Regions from separate parts of the Homo sapiens genome. Here all the other regions are linked to region 3. Evidence: fine-mapped expression QTL. A gene starts in region 3. Each other region holds a variant in brackets. All regions are shown on one strand. Distances are between the middles of the regions. Region 1 overlaps SH2B1 (SH2B adaptor protein 1). Region 2 has its middle 12 kb from the start of ATXN2L. Region 3 holds the start of TUFM (Tu translation elongation factor, mitochondrial).

Region 1 (9,773 bases), 26 kb after region 3:
GCAGGGATGGTGCAGAGGGAAGAGCTGCTGAGTTTCATGGGGGCTGAGGAGGCAGCCCCTGACCCAGCCGGAGTGGGCCGGGGAGGAGGGGTGGCTGGGCCTCCTTCAGGGGGAGGAGGGCAGCCTCAGTGGCAGAAGTGTCGCCTGCTGCTTCGAAGTGAAGGAGAAGGAGGAGGAGGAAGTCGCCTGGAGTTCTTTGTACCACCCAAGGTGAGGCCCCTTGGAGGGTGGGTGACTGAGAGCAAGTGAGAGAGTGCTCAGAGTGGTCACAGCCCTGCAGATAAGCTCTGGGGTTTACCAGCCCATGGCCCTGGTGTCGCTCACTTTTTGTTGGTAAAGCTGGCTCTTGGCTCTGTGTTAGCAGCTGCGGGCAGGACTGAGAAAGCAGTGTGACTGCCTTTTGTCTAACTTCCCGAGGATGTAGAAGGAAAGATGAATGTCTGGAGGGAGGGGAAGAGTGGTCTTTGGAAACCAAACACCCAGATCTGTTTCTTTCTCCTGACTTAGGCCTCTCGGCCCCGACTCAGCATCCCCTGCTCTTCTATCACAGACGTCCGGACAACCACAGCCCTGGAGATGCCTGACCGGGAGAACACGTTTGTGGTTAAGGTAGGAATTCAACTTCCCAGCCGCCGGCAGTGCTTGTGTTAAGGAGAAAGCCCTCAGCGCATTTAAGCAAGTGGCGTCGCCGAAAGGAGGTATATATATGTGTCCAGTGCCTTGAGAGTGTGTCCCTGGGGCTGCAGCTTTTCTGGGATAGCGGAAGACAGGGAAATGTTCTTACTCTCAAAAACAATGCCTCCACTTGAAAGAGAACTGTGGAGTTTTTGTTGTTGTGGTTGTTTTAGAGAGACAGGGTCTCCCTCTAAGTCAGGAGTGCAGCAACCTGATCATAGCTCACTGTAGCCTCGTGTAGCCTCGAACTCCTGGGCTCAAGTGATCGTCCTGCCTCAGCCCTCTAAGGAGCTGGGACTACAGGCATGTGACACCATGCCTGGCTAATTTTGTTACTTACTTACATTTGAGATAGAGCCTTGCTCTGCCGCACAGGCTGGAGTGCAGCGGCGCGATCTTGGCTCACTGCAACCTCTGCCTCCCAGGTTCAAGCGATTCTTGTGCCTCAGCCTCCTGAGTAGTTGGGATTACAGGCATGCACCACTATGCCCAGCTAATTTTTTGTATGTTTAGCAGAAATGGGTTTTGCCATGTTCGGCAGGCTGGTCTCAAACTGGCCTCAAGTGATCCACCCCACTTGGCCTCCCAAAGTGTTGGGATCACAGGCGTGAGCCACTGTGCCTGGCCTTATTTTATTTTATTATTTATTTATTTTTTTTGAGACAGAGTCTCGCTCTGTCGCCCAGGCTGGAGTGCAGTGGCGCGATCTCGACTCACTGCAAGCTCCACCTCCCGGGTTCATGCCATTTTCCTGCCTCAGCCTCCCGAGTAGCTGGGACTACTGGCGTCCGCCACCACGCCCGGATAATTTTTTTGTATTTTTAGTAGAGACGGGGTTTCACCAAGTTAGCTAGGATGGTCTCGATCTCCTGACCTCGTGATTTGCCCGCCTCAGCCTCCCAAAGTGCTGGGATTATAGGCGTGAGCCACTGCGCCTGGCCTATTTTATTTTATTTTATTTTTATTTTTTATATTTTTGAGACGGCATTTTACTCTGTCTCCCAGGCTGGAGTTGAAGTGGCATGATCTTGGCTCACTGCAACCTCCGCCTCCCGGGTTCAAGCGATTCTCCTGTCTCAGCCTCTCGAGTAGCTGGGACTACAGGCGCCTGCCACCACGCCTGGCTAATTTTTGTTTTTAGTAGAGACAGGGTTTCACCACATTGGTCATGTTGGTCTCGAACTCTTGACCTTGTGATCCACCCTCCTTGGCCTCTCAAAGTGCTGGGATTACAGGTGTGAGCCATCGTACCCGGCCTCGCCTTATTTTATTTTTCAATTTTTTTAGAGACAGGTTCTCACTATGTTGCCCAGACTGGTCCAACTCCTGGGCTCAAGTGATCCTCCAGAGGTGCTGGGATTACAGGTGTGAGCCTCTGTACCCGGCCTCCAGAGAGAATTCGAATGCATCTTGTTTGTAGACAGCCTGCATACATTGTTCTCATTAGGCATGGATTAAGCCTCCTCCCTGCCCCTGCCCCAGCTGAGGCGTCGTCTCATCTCTGTAGGTGGAAGGTCCATCCGAGTATATCATGGAGACAGTGGATGCCCAGCATGTGAAGGCCTGGGTGTCTGACATCCAAGAATGCCTGAGCCCAGGGTGAGAAGCCTGACTTCTGTCGCTAAGGGACATAGAGTGGGGTTGGGGAGCAGCCTTGCGCCTCTCACCTGGTGACTTTCCTCCCAGCACCATCTTCCCTGTCTCTGCAGACCCTGCCCTGCTACCAGTCCCCGCCCCATGACCCTCCCTCTGGCCCCTGGGACCTCATTCCTTACAAGGGAGAACACAGACAGCCTGGAGCTGTCCTGCCTGAATCACTCGGAGAGTCTACCCAGCCAGGACCTGCTGCTTGGACCCAGCGAGAGCAATGACCGCCTGTCGCAGGGTAAGGGTGGAGCCTTAGAGAGCTCGGAGCCTCGGAACCTGCCATGCGGGGCCCCTGCTGTCAGGCGCCATGCCCTCTCCAGACGCCACTGTGCCCCCATCCCTGTTTTCCAGATGCCCTACCCCAACCCCACCAAATGTTGGTCTTTGATCCCTGAACACAGCCACAGTTTGCTGTTTAGAATAATCATGACCCCACGCAGGCCCCAAGCAAACCTTAGCCAGGCTTCTGCACCCAGCCTCGCCACTTTTTCAGTCAGCGTCCTGCCAGCCACCGCTCTGGCTGGAAATAATGGTGGTTTTCTCCAAGCTTCTGGAACACTTTGTAGAAATCTTTGTTTTGTTCTTACTCTGCATCTCTGTGTCTGTCAGGGGCAATCACGTTTTCTCTTGACTCTGTACTTTTTGGTCTGACCAAACACACATACCCGACCCACACACACAAACACACAAAGATGTGTCACCCAGTCCCAACTCATATTTCTAGATTCGGCCTCCACTATAGCCTTTTCTCCTGACCCTCTGTTCTGAGTTCCAGCTGCACAGTGCCTAGCACACAGGCTGTATTCAGTGAATGAACACATGAATCATGGAATCTTAGATCTAGAGTGGACCTTGCATCTCATCAGATCTTAGTAGCTAAGACCAGGGAGAGGACACCTGAGGGTCACTGAGGAAGACAGGGGCTGCGCCACCCTGTTTCCCAAGCCATGCTGTCTGTGCACCACACGCCTGTCTTCTGAGCACTGCCTGCCTATGACATTTGTGTAGGCAGTGGCCTGCTGTTGGACAGACTTGGAGGATGGCCCTAGTGCATACCTGGCCCTGCTCTGTGTCCCGGGCCAGGATGGGGTAGCTAGGATGCCTGAGATGAGCTCCTTGTTCTCTAGAGGCTTTCAGCTGGGTTGACATCACTCCCTATAGAAAGCTTAGTGTCCCCTGAGCAGCACAAGCAGGAATCACGTTGGGAGCTCAGGAGGAAGAGAGCAGGGGAAGGTGGGAGAGACAGGGACTGCGACGCCGAGGAGAGGAGAGGACATGCCTGGGGACGTGAAGGGCAAGAGCAGAGACCTGCGGGGAGGGCCCAGGATATGGGGACAAATTGGATGGGAAATTGGGTTAAAGTGGAAGAGACATGAATACAAGGTAAGGTAAAGCTCAAGTTGGTGTGGGTTGGGGGAGTAATAGAAGGAGCATCTTTGATGCCTCTTAAGAGTTAGGGGCTTTGTCCTATAGTTCAACAAAGGACACCTTTTTTTTTTTGTTTGTGTGTTTAATTTTTTTATTTTTAAAAAATTATTGTTTGTGTTTTTGTTTTTGAGATAGGGTCTTGTTATGTCTCCCAGGCTGGAGTGCAGTGGTGCAGTCACAGCTTCCTGCAGCCTTGACCTCCCTGGCTCAAGCCATCTTCCTGCGTCAGCGGCTTAAGGTGCTGGGACCACAGGCGTGTGCCACCACCACACCTAGCTAATTTTTTATTTTTTGTAAGAGATGGGGTCTCACCATGTTGCCCAAGTTGGTCTTGAACTCCTGGGCTCAAGTCATTCTCACACCTCAGCCTCCCAAAAGGCTGGGATTACAGGCGTGAGCCACTGTGTGCAGCCAGAATTC[CGTGT/C]GTGTGTGTGTGTGTGTGTGTGTGTGTGTGTGTGTTTTGAGACAGAGGCTTGCTCTGTCGCCCAGGCTGCAGTGCAGTGAAACAATCTCGGCTCACTGCAACCTCTGCCTCCCGGGTTCAAGCAATTCTTCTGCCTCAGCCTCCCAGGTAGCTAGGATTACAGGTGTGCACCACTACGTCCAGCTAATTTTTGTATTTTTAGTAGAGATGGTGTTTCACCATGTTGCCCAGGCTGCTCTCGAACTCCTAAGCTCAAGTGATCCTCCTGCCTCAACCTCCCAAAGTGCGGGTATTACAGGTGTGAGCCACTGCGCCTGGCCCAGGACTCCTTTTGAATGTCAAAATATTTGAGGCAGCTGGGCACGGTGGCTCACGCCTGTAATCCCAGAGCTGAGGTGGGCAGATCACTTGAGTCCAGGAACTCAGGGCCAACCTGGGCTATTATATAGCGAGACCCCTTCTCTACAAAAACATGTATATATATATTTAAGGCATTCTGCTCTCCGTTTCTGCAACAGTCTTTCAGCTGTTGATTCAGAAAAAGATGGAGACACATTGGGACTTTAGAACCTCCTTGCAATAACTCTGCAGTCCCTCAGCAGCGCAGGAAGCATCAGTTAGGAGCCATTGGTAAAAGCATCAGGGGTCACTACCCACAGAGCTGTTTGGCATCTTGGCCAGCGACTGCACACAGGGTAGACTGCTGGTGAGGAGATGGGCCCAGGACAGTCCTTTAGAAGAGGAATTTCTTGGGTTCTCAGCTTTGCCCTTTTTTTTTCCAGGGGCATATGGGGGCCTCTCAGACCGCCCCTCGGCATCCATCTCCCCCAGCTCTGCCTCCATTGCCGCCTCCCATTTTGACTCGATGGAACTGCTTCCCCCAGAGTTGCCCCCCCGCATCCCCATTGAAGAGGGACCCCCAACAGGGACAGTTCATCCCCTCTCAGCCCCCTACCCTCCCTTGGACACTCCGGAAACAGCCACAGGTACCGGAGGTGTGAGTGTGCATGTCTCCAGGCCTGGGTGCCTACCTTCCTGACCACCTCTCCTGGGATCCCGAGGGAGCTGGCCCAGGGGAGTTGGGGACGCATGTGGGGAGCAGGCGCCTTGAGGGGAAGGCAAGGCTTTTTTCTCCCAGGATGGGGGAGGCTGCCCTGACACCCCGGTTTCCCTCCCTCTCTCCTTCCTGAAGGGTCCTTCCTGTTCCAGGGGGAGCCAGAGGGCGGTGAGGGGGACCAGCCCCTCTCAGGGTATCCTTGGTTCCACGGGATGCTCTCTCGGCTCAAGGCTGCACAGTTGGTGCTGACTGGCGGCACTGGCTCCCACGGTGTCTTCCTGGTGCGCCAGAGTGAGACAAGGCGGGGTGAATACGTCCTCACCTTCAACTTCCAGGGCAAGGCCAAGGTGAGCCACCCTGTGGGAAAGGCTCTGTTCTGTGCATAGTTGGCAGTGGGGTGGGGGAGCACTGCCGGGGGAGGGGGTTTGTACCTGGCAGGGCCTTTGCCTCCTACCTCACCTCCCCCATCCCGCCCTCAGCACCTGCGTTTGTCGCTGAACGAGGAGGGTCAGTGCCGGGTCCAGCACCTGTGGTTCCAGTCCATTTTCGATATGCTCGAGCACTTCCGGGTGCACCCCATCCCTTTGGAGTCGGGAGGCTCCAGTGATGTTGTCCTTGTCAGCTATGTCCCATCCTCCCAGCGACAGCAGGGTGAGCAGAGCAGGTCTGCAGGGGAGGAGGTGCCCGTGCACCCAAGAAGTGAGGTGTGTGTGCCAGAAAGATGGGGCGGGGAGGGGGGACTATCACAAGGAGAAGCTTTGCTTGGGAGAGCAGGGTAGAGGAGGCTGTTGTGCCTCGGGGTTTGGAAGGGAAAGAAATGCGCTGATAGGACACAGGAAGGCAGAAGGCTCCTGGCCGGAGCCGGGGCGGCAGCTGAGAGGTGGGCGGGCGCATCCCCATTCCATCGGATCCTCTGTTCCATTGTCTGTCTGTCTCCTGGACCCATCCTGGCCTCGTCTTTGCCCTCCGTCGCAGCCTGGCCTTGGGCCTGCCCTTCCCGGGGACACTCGGTCTGATCCCCTTCCCTCCTCCCTCAATGTCTCATGTCCCTGTCTGATCTCTCCCTTTCCCCTGCCCCACCGTCCCATCTGTCCCCACGTTGCCCCTCCCCCCAGGCCGGGAGCAGGCTGGGAGCCATGCGGGGGTGTGCGAGGGAGATGGATGCCACCCCGATGCCTCCTGCACCCTCATGCCCTTCGGAGCGAGTGACTGTGTGTAAGTGTGGTCCTCCTCTCACCACCGCCCATGATCCATCTTCCATGGATGGGGGGTTGCTCAGGAGATGGGATGTGGGGAGACAGCCACGCTCCTGGGGGGCTGAGTGAAGGGGAGGCCACGGCAGGAGCTCACCTGCCTCCACAATCAGTCTGTTTTCTTACCATTCCTATCCAGAACCGACCACCTCCCATGACCCACCCCAGCCCCCTGAACCCCCTTCATGGACAGATCCCCCACAGCCTGGGGCAGAAGAGGCGTCGAGGGCGCCAGAAGTGGCGGCAGCAGCAGCCGCAGCAGCCAAAGAGAGGCAAGAGAAAGAGAAAGCGGGCGGTGGAGGGGTCCCGGAAGAGCTGGTCCCCGTGGTTGAGCTGGTCCCCGTGGTTGAATTGGAAGAGGCCATAGCCCCAGGCTCAGAGGCCCAGGGCGCTGGGTCTGGTGGGGACGCGGGGGTGCCCCCAATGGTGCAGCTGCAGCAGTCACCACTAGGGGGTGATGGAGAGGAAGGGGGCCACCCCAGGGCCATTAACAACCAGTACTCCTTCGTGTGAGCCAACCCCACCCGCTCCACCCTTTTTAAACCCCCCAGCCCTGCTCGTGAGATTGGGCTGGGTAGGGACAGAGGAGGCCGAAATCCCTCCCCCATGCTTCCTGACCCTTGTTGGCCAAGGGCATCTTTGATGGTACAAGCAGAGGCTCGGGAGAGGCTCCCGTCACACACTACAGGTCCCCTCCCCAGGGCAGGGGATTTGGGCTCCATGAGCTCCTTGAGGGGCTCTTCTGGTCAGCCCCACCCTGGGGGCCATTTCCCCATTAACTACCCCCAGCCCGAGGCAGGGTGAGGGGGAAGGGCTGTCAGTTACATTAAGGTGGTTGTTGTTGTTGTTTTAAACAAAATGGAGAAGCATAAATAAATAAAAAGGTTTATCTCGGTTCTATCGTGATGGCTATGGCCATTGTTTGCTGTGGGGACTGGGGACAGTTGGGTTGGGAAGGCAGCCCACTCAGTGCCCACAGGCCAGAGGGCTGGCCCAGGCCAGTCCCCATCATTCTGCAGTGCTGTGCTTTCGGAGCCATCCCTGTGTCTGACAGCCTTGTTCGTGGAGCACTAAATGATGCTCTTGGGGTCTCCTGCGAGTTTTTGTCATGGGACAGTGCTGTGAATGGCAGGCATGGTGATCTCCAGCGGCCCTTCCTGAGTTATGGCTTTGTACCCTAGAGAGAGCTGGCAGTGAGAGATGGGAGGCACGGTGGCTGTGCTGGAAGAGATTGAACGTGGCAGTCACAGGGTAGCCGCAGAGGGGCCCAATGGCCCCCTTCTCAAAGCCAGGCTGGAGGGATGGCAGAGGGCACTAGCTTCTGTCCTGGCCTTGCCACTCACTGGCCTGGGCAAGGTGTAGCCACGCCGGGCCTGAGCATCCTCATCTGTGACATGTGAAGTTTCATCTTGAGTCAGAGCTGCTGACATGGTTTGCTTGGCCTGGACATGGTGTCCATTTGAGTTTCACATTAAAAATTCAGATCACAGGCCAGGTGTGGTGGCTCACGCCTGTAATCCCAGCACTTTGGGAGGCCGACGTGGGTGGATCACCTGAGGTCAGGAGTTTGAGACCAGGCTGACCAATGTGGAGAAACCCCGTCTCTACTAAAAATACAAAAAATTAGCCGGGTGTGGTGGTGCGCGCCTGTAATACCAGCTACTCAGGAGGCTAAGGTAGGAGAATTGCTTGAGCCCAGGAGGTGGAGGTTGCTGTGAGCCAAGATCGCACCATTGCACTCCAACCTGGGCAACAGAGCGAGACTCTGTCTAAAAAAAAAAAAAAAAAAAAAAAAATCACTGGCTTCTCTTAAAAATCAGAAGATCCAGTGATGTGGGTCCACTTCCACATCTGCCCCATCCCCACCAGCTCACTTTGCTCCCTGGGAGGGCCTGGCCCTGTGGGCATTTGAGTTTATAACACCACCCCCATTGTGGCACACCCCTCCACCCCGTAAAACACAGGCTCTGCTCTTGGAATCAGTCTTCCTGATCTGTGGCTGTGCCCTCCAACAGAGGGCACCCCTGGGCTTCCCAGCTCTGGGGGTAGTGGGTGCCAACAAGGAGGGGCCTGGGGCTGAAGAATCCCACCCGCTGAGCTCGGCCTTCTCCCTTCCCCACTGTCCAGCTCCGCCTTTCAGCATCCTGCCTCACTCCCCGCCCAGGCAGCAAGGAGCCCACACCCTCATGCCCCTCAGCTTCAGCCCCCACCTCCAGGAGGCCCTACCCACGCTCATGACCTTGCTATTCTGGGCCTTGTGTCCTGTAGGGAGATGGACAGGAGACAGCTGGGCTTCCAGGCCACCCAGGCGGGGGGCTAGCCGAGGGAAGCCTGCTGGCTCTCCTGCTTGCTCTAATTTCTGGGGCTCCCCAAACCTTGGCCTCAGGAGACTGGGGATAGGACCGGCCTTGAAAGTGGGGGAAGCTTTGGAGAGCCGGGTGCTGGGTTCTTAGTGAGATGGCCAGTGAAGGCTGTGGTGCCCCGAGGTAAGCAGGGCCTGATCCCCTCCTAATCTTCCAGCAGCAACTGGTGCTCTGAGGCTCCCCCTCCCCCAGCCCTGCCAGCCTTCAGGGACCTGCCTTCCAAAGATGGGCAGGGGAGGGGGACGAGGACACCCACCCACTCCTCAGACCAGCATGTCTTGGCTGTTGGGGCCTGAGAGACTTTCCCTCTAAGCCTTTCTTTACAGATGGTTAAACCGAAGTTCTGCACTCATCAGGGACTGGCCAGGGTGTCTCTGTGTCCCATGCTTTTAGCTCCAGCCCTCAGGTGTGACAGGAGGATCACTTTCCATCCCTGGGCGTGGAGACCCCTGTGGGAAGGGATCCCCGAGGGCGCCTCTGGCTCAGCCTCCCTCCATGGCAGTTCACACCCACAGCCTTCCCTAGAGCAGCCCTTCTGCAGCTCCTGGCGGGTGGCTTTCCCTCCCTGGCTTGTTTCCCCCTCTGGGAAGCCGGGGGAGGTAGAAATGAATAACCTTAAAGGCCTGTTGGCAGGAATGTGCTGCCAAGCCTGCCCCCTGCCCTCTGTCTCAGGCTCTCGACTCCCTCGAAGCTGCCCATCTCTCCGTCTGCCCCTCTCCATGTTTGGGCATTCCCACTGCTGTAAGACAGTAGCCCCTGTCACTCCTCCAGGTGCCGGTGGGGAGACGCCGGCCAGCGCCAAAAGCCTTGGCGGGTGTGAGCCTGAGTCCAGCGGAGACGGTGGGTGCTGGGCCGGGTGGAGGTGCCGGGGGCTGTGTCTCTTGGAAGAGAGGCTGCTAATGCTCTCCTGCACCCCCAATTCAGCC
Region 2 (9,773 bases), 35 kb before region 3:
GGTTATACGTATGAGCCACCACACACAGCCATATGGTTTTTAACTCCGGGCTGAGATTGAATTTTTTTTTCTTTTCTTTTCTTTTTTTGTTTGAGACTGAGTCTCACTCTGTCACCCAGGCTGGAGTGCAGTGGTGCTATCTCAGCTCACTGCAATCTCTGCCTCCCGAGTTCAAGGGATTTTCCTGCTTCAGCCTCCCAAGTAGCTGGGATTACAGGTGCCCGCCACCACACCTGGCTAATTTTTTTTTGTATTTTTAGTAAAGACGGGGTTTCACTGTGTTGGCCAGGCTGGTCTCGAACTCCTGACCTCAGGTAATCCACCTGCTTCGGCCTCCCAGATTGCGGGTATTACAGGTGTGAGCCACTGCACCCGGCCTGAAATTTTTCTAAATAAGAACCGGGCCAGGTGCAGTGGCTCACACCTGTGTTACCAGCACTTCAGGAGGCCGAGGTGGGCAGATCACTTGAGGACCATCCTCACTAACATGGTGAAACCCCGTCTCTACTAAAAATACAAAAAATTAGCCAGGCTTGGTGGCGGGCACCTGTAGTCCCAGCTACTCCGGAGGCTGAGGCAGGAGAATCGCTTGAACCTGGGGAGGTGGAGGTTGCAGTGAGCCTAGATCATGCCACTGCACTCTAGTCTGGGCGACAGAGCGAGACTCCGTCTCAACAACAACAACAACAAAGAAGAACCACACATAACCACTGCTATCAAACACTGAGAGGCTTTGTTAGCTAGCTTTTGAAGCAGTTTTGATAATATCTCTTAATAATTCAACCTAAAATTATAAGGCAAAACAGCACGTATATGTTTAACGTATGCTGCTGTAAAGTAACTTCATTGATGGTATATTGTTTGAATCACAAGCGATGTCAAGCTGCCTTATACACAGCCCATAATATCAAAGTTAAAACAAGGAGCAAGATGTCCATTCCCATATAGATTTTTAGGAGCTACATTTCCAATCTCAAACTGCAGTTCCAGTAGCATTTTTAGGACTTCAGTGAAATTGAGACACATCTCAAGTGATTAAACCATAATGTAGTGACATGCTAAAAGGCAGATAGCAAGAGAAAAATCCAATCCAAATAGATTTTTTTTTTTTTTTTTTTTGAGACACGGTCTTGCTCTGGTGCCCAGGCCAGAGTGCAGTGGCACCATCTCAGCTCACTGCAACTTCTACCTCCCAGGTTCAAATGATACTGAGCATCAAGTAGCTGGAATTACAGGCACACGCCACCAGGCCTGGCTGATTTTTTTGTATTTTCAGTAGAGAGGGGGGTTTTGCCGTGTTGCCTAGGCTGGTCTGGGACTCCTGGCCTCGAGTGATCCACCTACCTCGGCCTCCCAAAGTGCTGGGATTAAGTGAGCCACCGCACCTGGCCAGAGTCCAAATAGAATTCTATAAATGCCTTTCAAATGATGAATGTGCTCGTGACATCATATGCTTGTGGATTGCTATCTGTATTTGGCAATACCTATCTTCAGGAAAAACTATTTTTGCCAAATCTCATTACAGATTAGAATTAACAGATAAACATTTGTCATAGACTTTGATGATAGGGAACACTAACTTTGTTCTTTTTTTTTTTTTTTTTTTCTGAGATAGAGTCTCGCTCTGTCACCCAGGGTGGAGTGCAGTGGTGTGATCTCGGCTCACTGCCACCTCTGCCTCCTGAGTTCAGGCAATTCACATGCCTGAGCCTCTCCAGTAGCTGGGATTACAGGCATGCGCCACCATGTCTGGGTAATTTTTGTATTTTTAGTAGAGTCTGGGTTTTGCCATGTTGGTCAGTCTGGTCTCAAACTCCTGGCCTCAAGTGATCTGCCCGCCTCGGCCTCCCAAAGTGCTGGAATTACAGGCGTGAGCCACTGTGCCCTGCCATAATATACTACTTTTTATCTGTTGTCCTACAACACCTAAAATATTTACTATTTGGCCCTTTACAAAAAACATTTGCCAACCCCTGCTCTAGAAAATGCAAATCAGGTCAGGCATGGTGGCTCACACCTATAATCCCAGCACTTTGGGAGTCTGAGGTAGGCAGATCACCTGAGCTCAGGAGTTCGAGACCAGCCTGGCCAATGTGGTGAAACCCCGTTTCTACTAAAAATACAAAAATTACCTGGGTGTGGTAGTGGGTGCCTGTAATCCCAGCCACTTGGGAGGCTGAGGCAGGAGAATTGCTTGAACCTGGGAGGCGGAGGTTGCAGTGAGCTGAGACTGCACCATTGCACTCCAGCCTGGGTGACAAGAGCAAAACTCCATCTCAAAAAGAAAAAAAGAAAATGCAAATCAACCTATCGTGACAGAAAGCAGATCAGTGGTTTCTTGGGTATGAGGGGTCAGAGAGAGGCAGGTGGGAGAGATTACAGTCACAAGGAGACTTCTGCGTGATGCATACCTTCGCTATCATGATTGTGGTAATGACTTCACGGCTATAGATATAAAATATATGTCAAAACATCAAATTCTGGCTGGACACAGTGGCTTATGCCTGTAATCCCAGCACTTTGGGAGGCTGTGGCAGGAAGATTTGCTTGAGGCCAGGTGTTTGAGACTAGCTTGGGCAATATTGTGAGACCATGTCTCCACCAAAAAAAGGTTTTTTTGGTTTTTTTTTTTTAATTAGCTGGGCATGGTTGTGCACACTTGTAGTCCCAGCTACTCTGAAGGCTGAGGTGGGAGGATGGTTTGAGCCCAGGAGTCCGAGGCTGCAGTGAGCTATAATTGCACCAGCGCACTCCAGCCTGAGCAACAGAGCAAGACCTTGTTAAAAATAAATAAATAAATAAGCTGCGCGCAGTGGCTCACACCTGTAATCCCAGCACTTTGGGAGGCTGAGGCAGGTAGATCACCTGAGGTCAGGAGTTCGAGACCAGCCCGGCCAACATGGTGAAACCCCATCTCTACTAAAAATACAAAAATTAGCCAGGTGTGGTGGCGTGCATCTGTAATCCCAGCTACTCGGGAGGCTGAGGGAGGAGAATTGCTTGAGCCCGGGAGGCAGAGGTTGCAGTGAGCCAAGATCACACCACTGTACTTCTGCCTGGTTGACAGAGCAAGACTCCATCTCAAAAAAATAAACAAAAAACTTGCTCTAGTAGCCAAAAACCTAAGTTGAGTTGCCATAGTGAAGAGTTGTAGTCTCTCGCCTGAATTTTAGACCTAAGTCAGCATAGATCCAGAGTCACTTAATTGGAGAGAAGTTTGGTTCTCCCTGAGAGAGGAACATGCCCTGTTTACTAGAGTGTGCATCAGGGAGAAGAAAATACCCAACCTTTTGAGGATTCCTAGACATTGGCTCTGAATTAACGCCAAGTCCTGAGGATCCAAAATGCCACTGTGGCTCATCACTAAAAGTAGGGGCTTAAAGATAGATGGTCAGGTGCTAGATGGAGTCTTAGCTCAGCCCCAGCTCACAGAGGGCTCCGTTGATCTATGGTCCCACCCTGTGGTTATTTCCAAATTCCTGAGAGTATAATAGGAATAGCCATCTATGGCAACTGACAAATCTCCACACTGGCTCTCCCACCCATGGAGTGAGAGAATCATGGTGGAAAGGGCTAAGGGAAAGTCCCTGTAACTTCCACTTCCTGTCAAGACAGTTAACCAGAGGGCTGGGCGCAGTGGCTTACACCTGTAATCCCAGCACTTTGGGAGGCCAAGGCAGGCGGATCACGAGGTCAGGAGATTGAGACCATCCTGGCTAACACGGTGAAACCCCATCTCTACTACAAATACAAAAAATTAGCCAGGTGTGATGGCGGGCACCTGTAGTCCTAGCTACTCAAGAGGCTGAGGCAGGAGAATGGCGTGAACCCAGGAGGCAGAGGTTGCAGTGAGCCAAGATCATCCTACTGCACTCCAGCCTGGGCAACAGAGGGAGACTCTGTCTCAAAGAAAAAAAATTTTAAAAAGACAGTTAACCAGAAGCATTATCACATCCCTGGAGAGTCGCAGAGACTAGTGCCACCCTCAAAGACTTGCAAGGGGCCAGGTGGGGTGGCTCAGGCCTGTAATCCTAGCATTTTGGGAGGCCGAGGCGGGTGGATCACCTGACGTCAGGAGTTCGAGACCAACCTGGGCAACATGGTGAAACCCTATCTCTACTAAAAGTACAAAAATTAGCCGAGTGTGGTGGCAGGTGCCTGTAATCCTGGCTACTCAGGATGCTGAGGCAGAAGAATCGCTTGAACCTGGGAGGCAGAGGCTTCTGAGCTGAGATCATACCACTGTACTCCAGCCTAGGCAAAAGAGCGAAACTGTGTCAAAAAAAAAAGACTTGAATGGGCAGGCGTTTGGCATATGCTGGTTGGATGGATCTTAGAGAATGACTGTGGACTATGGGAAACTCATTTAGATGGTGACTCCAATTGCAGCTGCTGCCTCACATGTGGTATCTTTAGACAGCAGAAGAAATCAACATGACCCCTAGTGTGGTGCAATGATGTATTAAAGACTCAGTTAAGGCAAGATGTGGTGGCTTACACCTGTAATCCCAGCACTTTGGGAGGCCAAATCACTTGAGGTCAGGAGTTTGAGACCAGCCTGGCCAACATGTAAAACCCCATCTCCACTAAAAATACGAAAATTAGCCAGGCGTGGTGGCGCATGCCTGTAATACCAGCTACTCTGGAGGCTGAGGCAGGAGAATCACTTGAATCTGGGAGGTGAAGGTTGCAGTGAGCCGAGATCATGCCACTGCCCTCCAGCCTGGGCAACAGAGCAAGACTCTATCTCAAAAAAATAAAGACTCAGTTAAGGCACCACTTGAGAGACCACACCCCAGAAAGAATGGTTTGGGTTTTTTACCCCGCACAGAGGCTGGGATTCTTTTTTATAGCATGCACACTACTATCTTTTTTTTTTTTTTTTGAGACAGAGTCTCACTCCTGTTGCCCAGTCTAGAGCGCAATGGGGTGATCTCAGCCCACTGCAACCTCCACCTCCTTGGTTCAAGAGATACTGCTGCCTCAGCCTCCTGAGTAGCTAGGATTACAGGCATGCGCCACCACGCCTGGCTAATTTTGTATTTTAATAGAGACAGGATTTCTCCATGTTGGTCAGGCTGGTCTCGAACTCCTGATCGCGGGTGATGCGCCTGCCTTGGCCTCCCAAAGTGCTGGGATTGCAGGCGTGAGCCACCTCGCCCGGCCAACACTGCTGTCTTAATGAGAGACCATTATGTAGTGCTTTTTCTCTCATAGCCAGAATACAAGTCAGAATCAAGGAGAGATATTAGATCTCGTTCTTCTCGCTGTTTTTTTTTCTTTTCTTTTCTTTTTTGAGACAAAGTCTTGCTCTGTCGCCCAGGCTGGAGTGCAGTGGCGCGATCTCGGCTCGCTGCAAGCTCCGCCTCCCAGGTTCACGCCATTCTCCTGCCTCAGCCTCCAGAGTAGCTGGGACTACAGGCGCCCGCCACCACGCCCGGCTAATTTTTTTTGTGTTTTTAGTAGAGACGGGGTTTCACCGTGTTAGCAGGATGGTGTCCATCTCCTGACCTCATGATCCGCCCGCCTTGGCCTCCCAAAGTGCTGGGATTATAGGCGTGAGCCACTGTGCCTGGCCGTTTGTTTTTTTTTTTTTTTTTTTGAGACAAACTCTCACTCTGTCGCCCAGGCTGGAGTGTCATAGCTCACTGCAATCTCCGCCTTCCGGATTCAAGCGATTCTTGTGCCTCAGCCTCCCAAGTAGCTGACCGCCACGCCTAGCTAATTTTTTTTTTTTTTTTTTTTTTTGATGTTGTCTCGCTCTGTCGCCAGGATGGAATGCAGTGGCGCCATCTTGGCTCACTGCAGTCTGCCTCCCGGGTTCAAGCGATTCTCGTGCCTCAGCCTCCCGAGTAGCTGGGTTTACAGGCACGTACCACCACACCCAGCTAATTTTTTTTTTTGTACTTTTATGGGGTTTCACCAGGTTGGCCAGGATGGTCTTGATCTCCTGACCTCGTGATCCACCCATCTCGGCCTCCCAAAGTGCTGGGATTACAGGCGTGAGCCACTGTGCCCAGCTGACGCCTGGCTAATTTTTTTTTTTTTTGAGATGGAGTTTCACTCTTGTCCCCGGGGCTGGAGTGCAATGGCGCTATCTTGGCTCACTGCAACCTCTGCCTCCCGGGTTCAAGTGATTCTCCTGCCTCAGCCTCCTGA[G/A]TAGCTGGGATTACAGGCATGCGCCACCACGCCAGGCTAATTTTTGTATTTTTAGTACAGAGAGGATTTCACCATGTTGGTTAGGCTGGTCTTGAACCCCTGACCTCGTGATCCAACCTCCTTGGCCTCCCAAAGTGTTGGGATTACAGGCATGAGCCACCGCGTCTGGCCACCAAGCTAATTTTTGCATTTTTAGTAGAGATGGGGTTTCGCCATGTTGGTCAGGCTGGTCTCAAACTCCTGGCCTCTAGTAATCTGACTGTCTCAGCCTCCCATAGTGCTGGGATTACAGGTGTGAGCCACCACACCTGATCAAAAAATTGTTTGTTAAAGACAAAGTCTTATTCTGTCACCCAGCCTGGAGTACAGTGGTGCAATTATGGCTCACTGCAGCCTTGAACTTCTGGGCTTGAGCAATCCTCCTGCCTCAGCCTCCCAAGTAGCTAGGACTACAGGTGCGTGCCACCACACCTGGCTAATTTTTGTATTTCTTTTTGTTTGGTGGGGGCGTGGACAGGTTCTGGCCATGTTGCCCAGGCTGTTGTCAAACTCCTGCCCTCAAACCATCCTCCCACCTCGCCCAGTCTCACTATTCTACCAAATAACCCACTTGCAGATTTTTTGTTTCCTGTCTTGGTAAGTTTGAGCTCTGCTGACTTGGAAGACTTAGTCCTCAAGGGAGGAATTCTTCCATCAGGGACACAACAATGATACCATTGAATTGGAAAATGAGACTGCCACCTGGTCATGTTGGACTTTTTAGGCCACTGAACCAACCGCAGAAAATGGGGTTACTCTACTGGCTGGAGTTATTGATCCTTATGACCAGGAGGAAACTGGGTTGCTGCCACACCATGGGGGTAAGGATGGTGTGTCTGAATCCCGGGTTTCTCTGGAGTGCCTCTTACTATTTCTATGCCCAATAATACATGTTACTGAAAAACTGTGGTAACTAAAAGAAGGCAGGACAATGCGGACCCTTTAGGAATGAAGCTTTGCCTCATCCTACCAGGTAAAAAGCCCAATTATCGGAGCCCAAGGATTTTTGGATACTTACAGAAGGGAACATAGTTACCAATTATGGGCTCATGACCAATTACAGAACTGAGGATCTTGGAAGCTTGTCATATTTCCTTTTTGCTTTTTTTTTTTTTTTTTTTTGAGATGGACTCTCACTCTGTCGCCCAGGCTGGAGTTCAGTGGCTCAATCTCAGCTCACTACAACCTCTGCCTCCCGGGTTCAAGCAATTCTCCTGCCTCAGCCTCCCGAGTAGCTGGGATTACAGGCATGTGCCACCATGCTTGGCTAATTTCTGTATTTTTTAGTAGAGATGGAGTTTCACCATGTTGGCCAGGCTGGTCTCAAACTCCTGACCTCAAGTGATCCGCCCGTCTTGGCCTCCCAAAGTCCTGAGATTACAGGCGTGAGCCACCGCACCTGGCCCCTTTTTGCATAATATATTCATGTCTTTATTTGTACATGCTAGCCATCTTTTTTTTTTTATTTGGTCCATAGGCATTTTATTTGTAAATATGTGTTACATCTCTAGAAAAAGAGTCCCAGGATTTTCCTTCCTGTGTGTTTTCGTCTTGCTTCTTCATGGTCCATGATGCCAGCTGAGGTGGTCAGTACAATGAAACCAAACTGGCGGGATGGAAGCAGATCATTCTGCTATTTTTCTAGATCTTTGCACATCAAATCTGGGGCTGATCCCACGTTTAGCCTGCCTGTGAGGTTTACAGTAATTTTCCCAGCTGTGTGATCATCAGTGATTTCAAATTCGCCAATGTAACCATGCTTCATCATCACAGTTAGAAACTGGACGATGACTTTGGAGAATGGCCTAATAGGTACCTGGCATTTTGCCTCTCTTTTTGGCATTGTTGATGTTCTATTTTTTTTTTTTTTCTTTTTGAGACGGAGTCTCCCTCTTTCACCAGGCTGGAGCGCAATGGTGCGATCTCGGCTCACTGCAACCTTTGCCTCCCGGGTTCAAGCGATTCTCCTGCCCCTGCCTCCCGCGTAGCTAGGATTACAGGCGTGCGCCACCACGCCCAGCTAAGTTTTGTATTTTTAGTAGAGACAGGATTTCACCATGTTGGCCAGGATGTTCTTGATCTCTTGACCTCATGATCTGCCTGCCTCAGCCTCCCAAAGTGCTGGGATTACAAGCATGAGCCATAGCACCCAGCCTGTCAATGTTCTTGAGAGCATCAGCCGGGACAGTCATATGCGCCATTTTGGTGGCAGGGGAAGATGGAGGAAAGAGCTTTCTTTTTTTTCTCTCCTCGTTCTTATTTTTTATACAAGTTATTGGAGGTTAGCTCTACAATTCGGCCTTTAGGTAGCAGAACATTCAAGACTATGACTTAATTTGAGGAGTAATTAAAATAGCCAGCAACTGGTGCAATGATCATTATGACAGTGAGTCTCATTTTGGAGAAACAGTGAGAACTTTCCTTGTATGAAAGATAACTATCTCTTTTTTTAGTTTTTTATTTTTATTTTTTGTGGGAACGTAGTAAGTGTATATATTTACAAGGTACATGAGATATTTTGATACAGGCACACAATGCATAATAATCACATCAGGGTAAATGTGGTATCCAGCACCTCCTACGTTTATCCTTTGTGTTACAAAGAATCAAATTAAACTATTTTAGTTTAGGGTTTTTTGTTTGTTTGTTTGTTTGTTTTTTGAGACAGAGTTTCACTTTTGTCACCCAGTCTGGGGTGCAATGGCGCGATCTCGGTTCACTGCAATTTCTGCCTCTGGGTTCAAGCGATTCTCCTGCGTCAGGCTCCCAAGTAGCTGGGATTAAAGGCATGCACCACCACACCCAACTAATTTTGTATTTTTAGTAGAGATTTCTCCATGTTGGTTAGGCTGGTCTCAAACTCCCAACCTCAGGTGATGTGCCCACCTCAGCCTCCCAAAGTGCTGGGGTTACAGGCGTGAGCCACCATGATCAGCCTTTTTTTTTTTTTTTTGAGATGGAGTCTCACTCTGTCGCCCAGGCTGGAGTGCAGTGGTGAGATCCTGGCTCACGGCAACCTCTGCCTTCCAGGTTTTTTTGTTTGTTTGTTTGTTTGTTTGTTTTGAGACAGTCTTTCTCTGTTGCCCGGGCTGGAGGGCAATGGTGCAATCTCGGCTCACTGCAACCTCCACCTTGCGTGTTCAAGCGATTCTCCTGCCTCAGCCTCCTGAGTAGATGGGATTACAGTCGTGCACCACCATGCCTGGCTAATTTTTGTATTTTAAGTAGAGACGGGGGTTTCACCATGTTGGTCAGGCTGGTCTCGAACTCCTGACCTCATGATCCACCTGCCTTGGCCTCCCAAAGTGCTGGGATTACAGGCGTGAGCCACCACACCCAGCCTCTGCCTTCCAGGTTTAAGCAATTCTCCTGTCTCAGCCTCCCGAGTAGCTGGGATTACAGGCACCCACCACCACACCTGGCTGAGTTTTGTATTTTTAGTAGAGACGGGGTTTCACCATGTGGGCCAGGCTGGTCTCGAACTCCTGACCTCAAGTGATCCACCTGCCTTGGCCTCCCAAAGTGCTGGGATGACAGGCGTGAGCCACCACGCCTGGCCCTCTTTTAGTTATTTT
Region 3 (9,773 bases):
CATCCTCTGCCTCTCGGGTTCAAGTGATTCTTGTGCCTCAGCCTCCTGAGTAGCTGAGACTACAAGCGCAAGCCACCATGCCTGGCTAATTTTTTTTTTTGAGACGGAGTCTTACTCTGTTGCCCAGTCTGGAGTGCAATGGTGTGATCTTGGCTCACTGCAACCTCTGCCTCCCAGGTTCAAGCGATTCTCCTGCCTCAGCCTCCCAAGTAGCTGGAATTACAGGCGCCTGCCACTACGCCTGGCTAATTTTTGTATTTTTAGTAGAGACGGGGTTTCATCATAATGGCCAGGCTGGTCTCGAACTCCTGACCTCAGGTGATCTGCCTGCCTTGGCCTCCCAAAGTGCTGGGATTACAGGCGTGAGCCACCGTGCCTGGCCTCGGCTCAAGTATTTTTAAATCAAGTTTTCTTAGACATTACACACTTAATAAGTTGACCCTTAAGTGATTGGGGTTCAAACTGCACAGATCCACTTACATGTGAATTTTTTCAAATACAAGTTACACCGAGTCTGCCTGTCTCCCCTTTGGCCTCCTCCTAAGAAACGTGAAGACAATGAGGGCCTTTATGATGATCCACTTCCACTTGATAGTGAATATATTTTCCTTATGATTTTCTTAACACCTTCTCTAGTTTTATTGTTTTTTTGTTTTTTTTTGAGATAGAGTCTCGCTCTGTCACCCAGGCTGGAGTGCAGTGGCGCGATCTCAGCTCACCGCAACCTCCGCCTCCTGGATTCAAGCAATTCTCCTGCCTCAGCCTCCTGAGTAGCTGGAATTACAGGCATGTGCCACCACACCCGGCTAATTTTTTTGTATTTTTAGTAGAGACAGGGTTTCACCATGTTGGCCAGGCTGGTCTCGAACTCCTGACCTTGTGATCCACCCACCTCAATCTCCCAAAGTGCTGGGATTACAGGCGTGAGCCACCGCGCCCGGCCACTCTCTAGTTTTAAGAATACAGTATATAATACATATAACACACAAAGTATGTGTTTGTATGCTATCAGCGAGGCTTCTGGCCAGCAGCAGGTTACTAGTTACATTTTGGGGGAGTCAAGTTATATGTGAGGAGCCAGACACGGTAGCTTACACCTCTAATCCCAGCAGTTGGGGAGACCAAGGTTGAGCCCAGGAGTCCAAGGCTGCAGTGAGCTAGGATGGTGCCACCGCACCCAGCCTGGGTGACAGTGAGACCCTATATCTCTTTTTTTCCCTTTGTTCAGCCTCCCCATAGAGACCGTCGAAAATTGCCAATGCTGATTATATTTCAAGTCATCATGGAGTCATTGGCTATGATACTGCCACTGCACAAAGCTGGCCCCATCTCAAAAACAAGTTATATGTGGATTTGTGGCTGCATGGAGGAGGGCTGACACCCCTAACCCCTGCATTGTTCAAGGGTCAACTATAATATAAACATAACTTCACTGAGAAATCAAAAAATTTGTGACCTGCTTTATTGTGGTAGTCTGGAAGCAAACCTACAGCATCTGAGGTATGCCTGTCCAGTCCCTGTTCCCACAGAATGTGAATGGATGCTAGACATTCACTTAGTATTCCGAGGAAACAAGATGGGTTTGGCACCTGAGCTGAAGCCATGCTGGCTCCAGAGCGATAGAACATTCTTTCCCACTATCTCCCAGGAGGCTGAATAACGGCATCCTACTGTGTCTAGGCAATCACTAAGCTCACTGGACTTGATTTATCCGTTAAAACTGCTCTGGGATCTCACAAGCTCCCCATCTGTCTGGGGTTCAACACCCTTTTTGTCCTCCCCTATCCTCTCCAATTTGCACAAAGGACACAGGACACAGGCTGGCTTACTATTCAAAGTTTACTGACCTCCCCAGCCAGGCAGGCCAACCCTTCCGAGCAGGGGAAATGTCCATCTAGCTGCCCTCTGCTGGGTTGCAGCCTATGCCATGAGAGGGTACTGGAAGCAGGAGGGAGCCCTGGCTAGGGCAGGCCTTAAACGCAAGGGAAGCTGAGCAGAGATCTGCACACTCAACCCCATTTGATATTCTTCTCCTCCTCAGTCATGGCCAGCGTGTTGGTGACTAGACCGGTGCCAATAGTCCGGTTGCCATCTCGCAGGGTGAAACGCTGGCCTTTCTCTAAGATCATTGGCTGCCGCAAGATTAGGTTGAACTTCAGGTCCTCCCCGGGCATGGCAAGCTCCTAGAGTAGGAAGAGAAGGATCATGCGTGGCCTCCAGGGTGCCTTCATTCCTTAAGTCTTTTTTGGCTACCTCGGAGGTTAAGAGTCATGGGAGAATGCAGCAGGGGAATGGTTCTGCCTGGGGACAGCTTCATCCATCCCAGGCTGTCAGGCAGATGCAAACAGCATATTGAGACAGGAAAACATAAAAGAGACCAGTGATGAGTGTTCCTAAGGTATGTTCTTGAGAAAAAAATGTCTAGGAAGTTGTGGGTTATGCAGGTTTCTTGGTCACAGAACTTCTTAAGCCTTCATATATAATGAAACGCTCAAAAAGAAGAGACCTTTTCTAGGAAATCTTTCTGTGGGTACATGCTGGCAGAGCTAAACTTTTAACCTGCTTCAGCTTAGGGCACACTGGATGAGGACTCCCGCCCCTAAGTCCATGGGCCATGCCCCTTCTGTTGGCTAGCAGCGGCAAGCAGCCCCTTTCCACCTAAGGAAATAAAGCCACTCGGGTTGTCACAGTGTATCTTTGGAACTATGAGTGAAGCAAAGGTAATATAAAAAGTCCCCCCTCCACCCTACATTCCTCCCACCCACCGTACCTTCTCTGGGGGCAGGATAATCCGACAGGCCATGTCCCAAGTCAGGGAGAACATGACAGGCATGAAGTGGGACACAAAGGGCTTGTGGCGGCCACCTTCCTCCTTGCTGAGGATGTAAACCTGGAGGAGAGCAAGCAATGACGGTGAGCTGGGCTTGGCTGGAGGCTGGGGAGAGCTTGGCTCAACCCTGCCCACCGTCACCTGGAGCCCTCACCTGGGCCTCCACCTTCTGGTGGGGCTTGATGGAACCTGGCTTGACCATGACCAGGCCCCGCCGCAAGTCCTCCCGCTTCAAGCCTCGGACCAGGGCCCCGAGGTTATCTCCGGCCTCGGCCCTCTCCAGGCTCTTGTGGAACATCTCAATGCCTAGGACGGAAAGGGAAAAGGAGCAGGGAGAAGGAAGGCGAATGTGAGACAGAGGGAAGGCACAAGGGATCTGCCGGGGTAAGGCCACCCTTCAGCCAGGCCCTGCTCTCCAGACTGGCTTCCCAAACCTGTCACCACAGTGCGGATGTTCTTGCTATGTCCTAGGAGCTCACACTCGTCTCCCTTCTTTAAAATGCCACGCTCTAGTGTACCTGTCACCACGGTGCCACGGCCTGGGAGGGAATAAGACAGGATATCAGGGACCCCGAGCTAGGCTTCTGCTAGAGAGAGTGCGTGGGAACAGACAGAGTCCTCACCAGGGACGGAGTACACCGCCTCCACAGGCAGCAGGAAAGGCTTCTCCAGGTCCCGGGCGGGCACTGGGATGTAAGTGTCCACAGCATCCAGTAGCTTCTGCACAGACTTCAGGCCTAACTCAGGGTCCCGACCCTGTTGAGGGGAAGTGCCAGGACTCTGAAATCCCCATTCTACTTCCCTCGATTATCAAGAGCCACTTCCCAGACACAAAGCAGAGCTCTGGGTGCCCATCCAGCCCCACCCTCTGCAGCAGCTGCCCTGCCTGACCCCGCGTTCACCTCAAGGGCACAGAGAGCAGAGCCTACGATGACTGGGGTCTCCTCCCCTTTATAGCCAAACTCGGTGAGCAGCTCCCGGATCTCCAGTTCCACCAGTTCCACCATCTCAGAGTCCTGGACAGCGTCAGCCTTGTTCACATACACCACCACATGCTCCACCCCAATCTGTAGATGCCAGAGAGACAGGGACAATATACAGAGGGGCCCAACTCCCCACTCTTCCCTTTTGCATCCTTACCCAGGCTCTGAGTACCTGTCTGGCCAGTAATAAGTGCTCTCGGGTCTGGGGCATGGGGCCGTCATTGGCTGCTACCACCAGGATGCAGCCGTCGAGGGGTGCAGTGCCTGTGATCATATTCTGGAGAGGAGAAGGAAAGGAAACAGCCAAGTTCAACGAGCTCTTCAGTTCACATCCATATAGCCAAGTGTAGCAGTTAGAAACTCAGGCCCACCTTTCTCTACCATCTCCTCACCACCCATTCTGCGTGGCCAAGACCACAAACCTGCCATCTCATACCCAAACACTGAATATCTTAATCTCCTCCCCACAAGCCTAACATTTATCCTGACAAGAGGCAGCTTCTGGCCCTGTCTCCAGTGTCCCAGCAACCCTCACCTTAACATAATCTGCATGACCCGGGCAGTCTGTGTGGGCGTAGTGGCGGGCGGCAGTGCTATACTCCACATGAGCCGCATTGATGGTGATACCCCGAGCTCGCTCCTCCGGGGCATTGTCAATCTCCTCGTACTTCTTGAACTTAGCCCCACCTCCCTCAGCTAGAACTAAAGGAGGAAAAGAACACACCTCTCAGCTAAAGTTCCAGTGCTAGAGGCAGAGCTTAGACCACGCCCCTGAACCCTCCCACCTAAATACATAACCTCCTCCAATCTCTAACTCTTCCAGCAGAGAGAACTGTGGGTCAGAAAGAAATGTTAGAGGGCCTTAAGGGTCTGCCCTGTGACTTCTTTAGGGTACAGCCTCTGCTTGCAGAGCATTCCCCACGACTTTGTGATCCCCAAGCCATTGGTGGATCACAAAGTTCTTCCTGTTCAGGAGAAATTTGTCTCTTGCATCTCCCAATCCACCTGTCGCACAAATTCGGGCTCTTGGGGCCACAGTAAACTCCTCCAGCAGACACTCTGCTGGCCTTGCCTCCCTGGCTCCAGGTCCCATCAGTAGATAGGGCGCTGCTGGACGCCCCAACCCCACTCACTCTTCGTGATGGCTGCAGTCAGCGTGGTCTTCCCGTGGTCCACATGGCCGATGGTACCCACATTCACATGTGGCTTGTCGCGCACGTAAGTCTTCTTGGCCTCCACGGCCAGGCCGCGGCACAAGAGAGGCAATGCCGGGGCTTTCAGCAGCCGCAACAGACCCTGCAGCAGGAAGGTCCGGCCGGCGGCGAGACCTGCCGGGACCGAAGCTTGGAGTCAGGCAGGGAAGGGGTCAGACCGAACCCAGCCACCTACCACTCCCCCAAAGTGTTCCTGGGCCGCCATCGCCCTCCCTGACCACTCACCGCTGAAGTGGGGCGTCGCGCGCAGCAGGGTGGCGGCCGCCATTGTGGTCATACTCGCGCCCCGGTAACCGGGGAGCCGGGACCAGGAGCCCGAGCGCACAGAAGAAGAAGGGCGCCTGCGGCTGGAAGGCACTTCCGGCGGAAGTTAGAGCTGGGAGGGCAAGTCCGGGCCCCTCTAGCCGCCAGTGTCTATGGCCGTCTCAGCCGACGTCGGGCGCGCGGCTGAAGACGTCATGGAGGGGGCTGGTGTCTCGAGGGCGGAGTATGATGGAGAGGTTTTCCACCACTCGCGCCTCTCGGGCTGAGGGGCAACGTAGTTCTCTCTGGCGGTCGCAGGGGGCACTGAGGAGCGTCCCCTAAATCACCGGCGCCGCGAAGGCTCATGGGCGTAGTAGTTCTCAGGTCGGCGGGCTGTGGAGGTGATCAGAGTGGGAGTCAGGCGGGCTAGGCCGGACCCGGAGGGAGGGGCTCGGGCTCCGGGAGGCAGCTGCGGCTCCGACTGCTCAGGAACCTCCTCCTGGGCCCGGCAGAGAGAGACCCCGAGTCCCCCGGAGTCCGACTCGCTACGCGGGTCTTGCGAGATATCTGGCCGCCTCTGCCGCAGCTGGAGGTAGGGGACCAGGTCCTGGACGCCTTTCGGGGATGGGGTGAAGTGTGACCTCCCTCTTCGCTGAGACTTTGTTTTCTAATCTGTAAAATGGGAATAGTAGTATCCACTTCATAGGGAGAGCCTGACATCTAGCCCTGAGAGGAGATGAACTGGGTAGGAGTCAGTGTTGGGCCCTGTGAGGTCAGGCAGCTTGCGGGGACCCTGTACTGCTAGACCTCACAGGGCCAGAGCCCACAAGACAGACAGCTTCGCTGCCCACCCCTGTAGTCCCTCAGCAGCCTAAGGAGCAGTTCCGTTGGGCATCGCCCCACCCATCTAATTTTGCAGATGAGGAGCCAAGGATGAGGAGCCAGCTAGGGGAGCCTTTAAGGGGAGCCTGAGTCTCCTTTAATCTGTCGGTGTCCCCAGCACCTAACAGGGTGGAGCATGCAGTGAATGTTGAATGAATGGGTGCAAGGGTAGTCAATGTCCCTTAACTTTCACATCCATCATCTCATGGCAGCTTCCACAGGGCACTCCAAAGTGTTAATTATGGCTGCTTAACCCTGGCTAATGTTTCGGAACTCATCAGATCCTGAGACTCAGTGGACAGTGTTTGTTTCAAATAGATTCCCTAATTCCTCCCCTGGAGGTTATGATTCCGTGGGGTCTATGCACAGACTGGGAAGCTATATAACAAACACTCTTCTAAAACTGAGAAGAGGCTGGGCACGGTGGCTATAGTGCCAGCCTATAGTCCCAGCAGTTTGGGAGGCTGAGGTGGGAGGACGGTTTGAAGCCAGGAGTTCAAGACCAGCCTGGGCAGATTAGGAGACCCTATCTCTACAAAAAAAAATTTAAAATTAGCCAGGCACAGTAGCATGCAGCTATAGCCCCTCCTACTCAGGAGGCCGAGGCAGGAGGATCGCCTGAGCTCAGGAGTTCAAGGCTGTGGTGAGGTATGATCATGACACTGCACCCCACCGTGAGTGACAGAGAAAGACCCCATCTTTTTTTTTTTTTTTTTTTTTTTTTTGGAGACAGAGTCTCACTCTGTCGCCCAGGCTGGAGTGCAATGGGGCGATCTCGGCTCACTGCAACCTCCACCTCCTGGGTTGAAGCAATTCTCCCACCTCAGCCTCCTGAGTAGCTGGGACTACAGGCATGTGCCACCACGCCTGGCTAATTTTAGTATTTTTAGTACAGATGGGGTTTCACCTCGTTGGCCAGACGGCTCTCGAACTCCAGACCTCAAGTGATCCGCCCATTGTGGCCTCCCAAAGTGCTGGGACTACAGGCGTGAGCTACCACGCTCAGCCAAGAAAGACCCCATCTCTATAAAAATATTTTGGCCAGGCGTGGTGGCTCACACCTGTAATCCTAGCACTTTGGGAGGCCGGGCGGGTGGATTGCTTGAGTTCAGGAGTTCGAGAACAGCCTGGGCAACACGGTGAAACTCTGTCTCTACTAAAATACAAAAAATTAGCTGGGCGTGGCAGTGTGCACCTGTAGTACCAGCTACTCAGGAGGCTGAGGCAGGATAATTGTTTGCACCCGGGAGGCGGAGCTTGCAGTGAGCTGAGATGGTGCCACTGCACTCCACCCTGGGCGACACAGCGAGACTCCGTCTCCAAAAAAAAAAATTTTTTTTCAAATGAAAACTCAGAGGAGTTTAGGAAACTCTGAACTAGAGCTTTATGATGTTCAGGCATTCCTATTGTTTCACAATCAGCGCTCCCAGTGCTACCCTGGGTAGTAGGAACTATTATTTCCTCCATTTTGCAGGTGTGAAAACTGACGGTCAGGGTGATTAAGGAATCCACCACCACTAAACCCCAAAAAGTGTGCACACCGCACTGTCCTTTTTTTTTTTTTTTTTTTTTTGAGACAGAGTCACACTCTGTTGCCCAGCTGGAGTGCAGTGACACGATCTCGGCTCACTGCAACCTCCATCTCCCAGGTTCAAGCGATTCTCCTGCCTCAGCCTCCCGAGTAGCTGGGATTACAGGCGCCTGCCACCACGCCCAGCTAATTTTTGTATTTTTAATAGAGACGGGGTTTCACCATATTGGCCAGGCTGGTCTTGAACTCCTGACCTCAAGTGATCCACCCACCTTGGCCTCCCAAAATGCTGGGATTATAGGTGTGAGCCACCATGCCCAGCCAGACTGTACTATAATTTAACTCTCATTTTACTGCTCAGATAAAGTGAGGAACTTGCTAAGACTTCTCTCTTCCTGGCCCTCCAGTTAATCAGTTCTGCTTAGGAAAGGCTGGTATCATGTGTAGTATAAACAGATTTTGTTTTTGTTTTTTTGACAGAGCCTTGCTGGGTCTCCTAGGCTGGAGCATAGTAGGGCAGTCACAGCTCACTGCAGCTTCAGCCTCCCAAGCTCAATCTACCTCAGCCTCCCAAATAGCTGGGATTACAAGCATACACCACCACACCTGGCTAATTTTTGTATTTTTTGTAGAGATGGGGTTTCGCCATGTTGGCCAGGCTGGTCTCCCAATACCGGGGCCCAAGCCGTCTGCCCACCTTGGCCTCTCAAAATGCTGGGATTACAGGCATGAGCCACTGTGCCCAGCCTAAAAGGGTTTTCTGTTTCTACTCTGTACCTAAGTCACTGTACTCCTAGGAATTTATCCTAAGACACTATTGGCCACTAGCAAGTTATGAGTTTTTGGGGGTGGTATTTGAATTAATGGTTTATATTTTTGTGGTGCTATATTTATTTTAATGTGTATTAGCTTGAAAAAAAACTGGCATAATAATCAAGTTTTTAAAAAAACAGATCAACTTAAAAGAATATTGTTTGGTAGATAATATTATGGATGCACTGGGCACAATGGCTCACACCTATAATCCCAGCACTTTGGGAGGTCGAGGCAGGCGGATCACTTGAGGCCAGGAGTTCGAGACCAGCCTGGCCAACATGGTGAAATCCCGTCTTTACTAAAAATACAAAATTACCTGGGCATGGTGCACGCCTGTAGTCTCAGCTACTCAGGAGGCTGAAGCAGGAGAATCGCTTGAACCCAGGAGGCGGAGGTTGCAGTGAGCCGATATCACGCCATTGTACTCCAGCCTGGGTGACAGAGCGAGACTCTGTCTCAAAAATAAAATAAAAACTATTATGTGTGGTATGAATATATGGCAAATTTTTTGGAAGGTAGTGAATGAATGGCTAGAGTTTGAGAAACACGGTGTTCGGAAAAGAGCCCAGAGAAAATTTTTTCTAGAGCTGTTGACCGTAGCATCCTCTGTATTAGTGAATGGCTCAGTCAGAAGTCTTGACTTACAGATAACAGATTTTACATTGGCTGGCTTAAGCAGAGGAGGGATTTGTTAAGGGTATTAGGCAGCTTACAGAATTGTGGGGCAAACTGGAGAACTAATTCCAAGCCATAGAACTGATTTGACCTGATAAGAAAACTGCTGTTACTGTCACTACCATCAAATGCTACATGCCAGGATATCAACTCGTCTGTTATAGCTACTGCCGGGGGCACTGAAACCACTTCTGCTATTGCTTGAGACCAGGAGTTCGAGACCAGCCTGGGCAAAATAGTGAGACCTTGTCTCTACAAACATAAAAATAAAAAAATTTGCCAGATATGGCAGCACATGCTTGTATAATCCCAGTTACTGGGGAGGCTGAGACAGGAAGATCACTTGAACCCAGGAGTTTGAGGCTGCAGTGAGCAATGATAGCACCACTGCACTCCAGCCTGTGTGACAGTGCCAGACCACGTCTCTAAAACAAAAAGGGCCAGGTGTGGTGGCTCACGCCTGTAATCCCAGAACTTTGGGACGCTAAGGTGGGCGGATCATGAGGTCAGGAGATCAAGACCATCATGGCTAATATGGTGAAACCCCACCTCTACTAAAAATACAAAAAATTAGCCAGGAGTGGTGGCACGTGCCTGTA

The links. PIP is the estimated chance that this variant, and not a neighbour inherited with it, causes the effect.
Region 1: its variant is the best candidate, but not a certain one, in a credible set for the expression of TUFM in fetal neocortex (Walker 2019, PIP 0.87).
Region 2: its variant is the best candidate, but not a certain one, in a credible set for the expression of TUFM in lung (TOPMed, PIP 0.70).

The regions. Positions count from the first base shown.
Region 1 is chr16:28,866,824-28,876,596 of GRCh38, forward strand. SH2B1 (SH2B adaptor protein 1) reads left to right here. Exons shown (of 8, transcript NM_001387430.1): 1 at 1-210; 2 at 508-609; 3 at 2,183-2,274; 4 at 2,385-2,560; 5 at 4,957-5,160; 6 at 5,367-5,578; 7 at 5,711-5,882; 8 at 6,624-7,382. The coding sequence ends at 6,997. Among named protein-coding and RNA genes, the nearest start is that of ATP2A1, 6.8 kb to the right of the region's middle. RefSeq lists enhancers at 7,130-7,630, 7,631-8,131. The variant CGTGT/C (reference allele first, on the strand shown) is at 4,171.
Region 2 is chr16:28,806,275-28,816,047 of GRCh38, forward strand. It overlaps the pseudogene RPS15AP33. Among named protein-coding and RNA genes, the nearest start is that of ATXN2L, 12 kb to the right of the region's middle. The variant G/A (reference allele first, on the strand shown) is at 6,160.
Region 3 is chr16:28,840,966-28,850,738 of GRCh38, forward strand. TUFM (Tu translation elongation factor, mitochondrial) reads right to left here and starts at 5,383. Exons shown (of 10, transcript NM_003321.5): 1 at 5,253-5,383; 2 at 4,947-5,141; 3 at 4,349-4,515; 4 at 3,986-4,090; 5 at 3,733-3,897; 6 at 3,454-3,586; 7 at 3,265-3,369; 8 at 2,985-3,136; 9 at 2,771-2,890; 10 at 1,446-2,183. The coding sequence starts at 5,304. The coding sequence ends at 2,010. MIR4721 (microRNA 4721) reads right to left here and starts at 3,042; the gene lies at 2,954-3,042. It also overlaps a transcript of SH2B1 not described here. RefSeq lists silencers at 878-1,035, 9,130-9,330 and an enhancer at 5,245-5,734.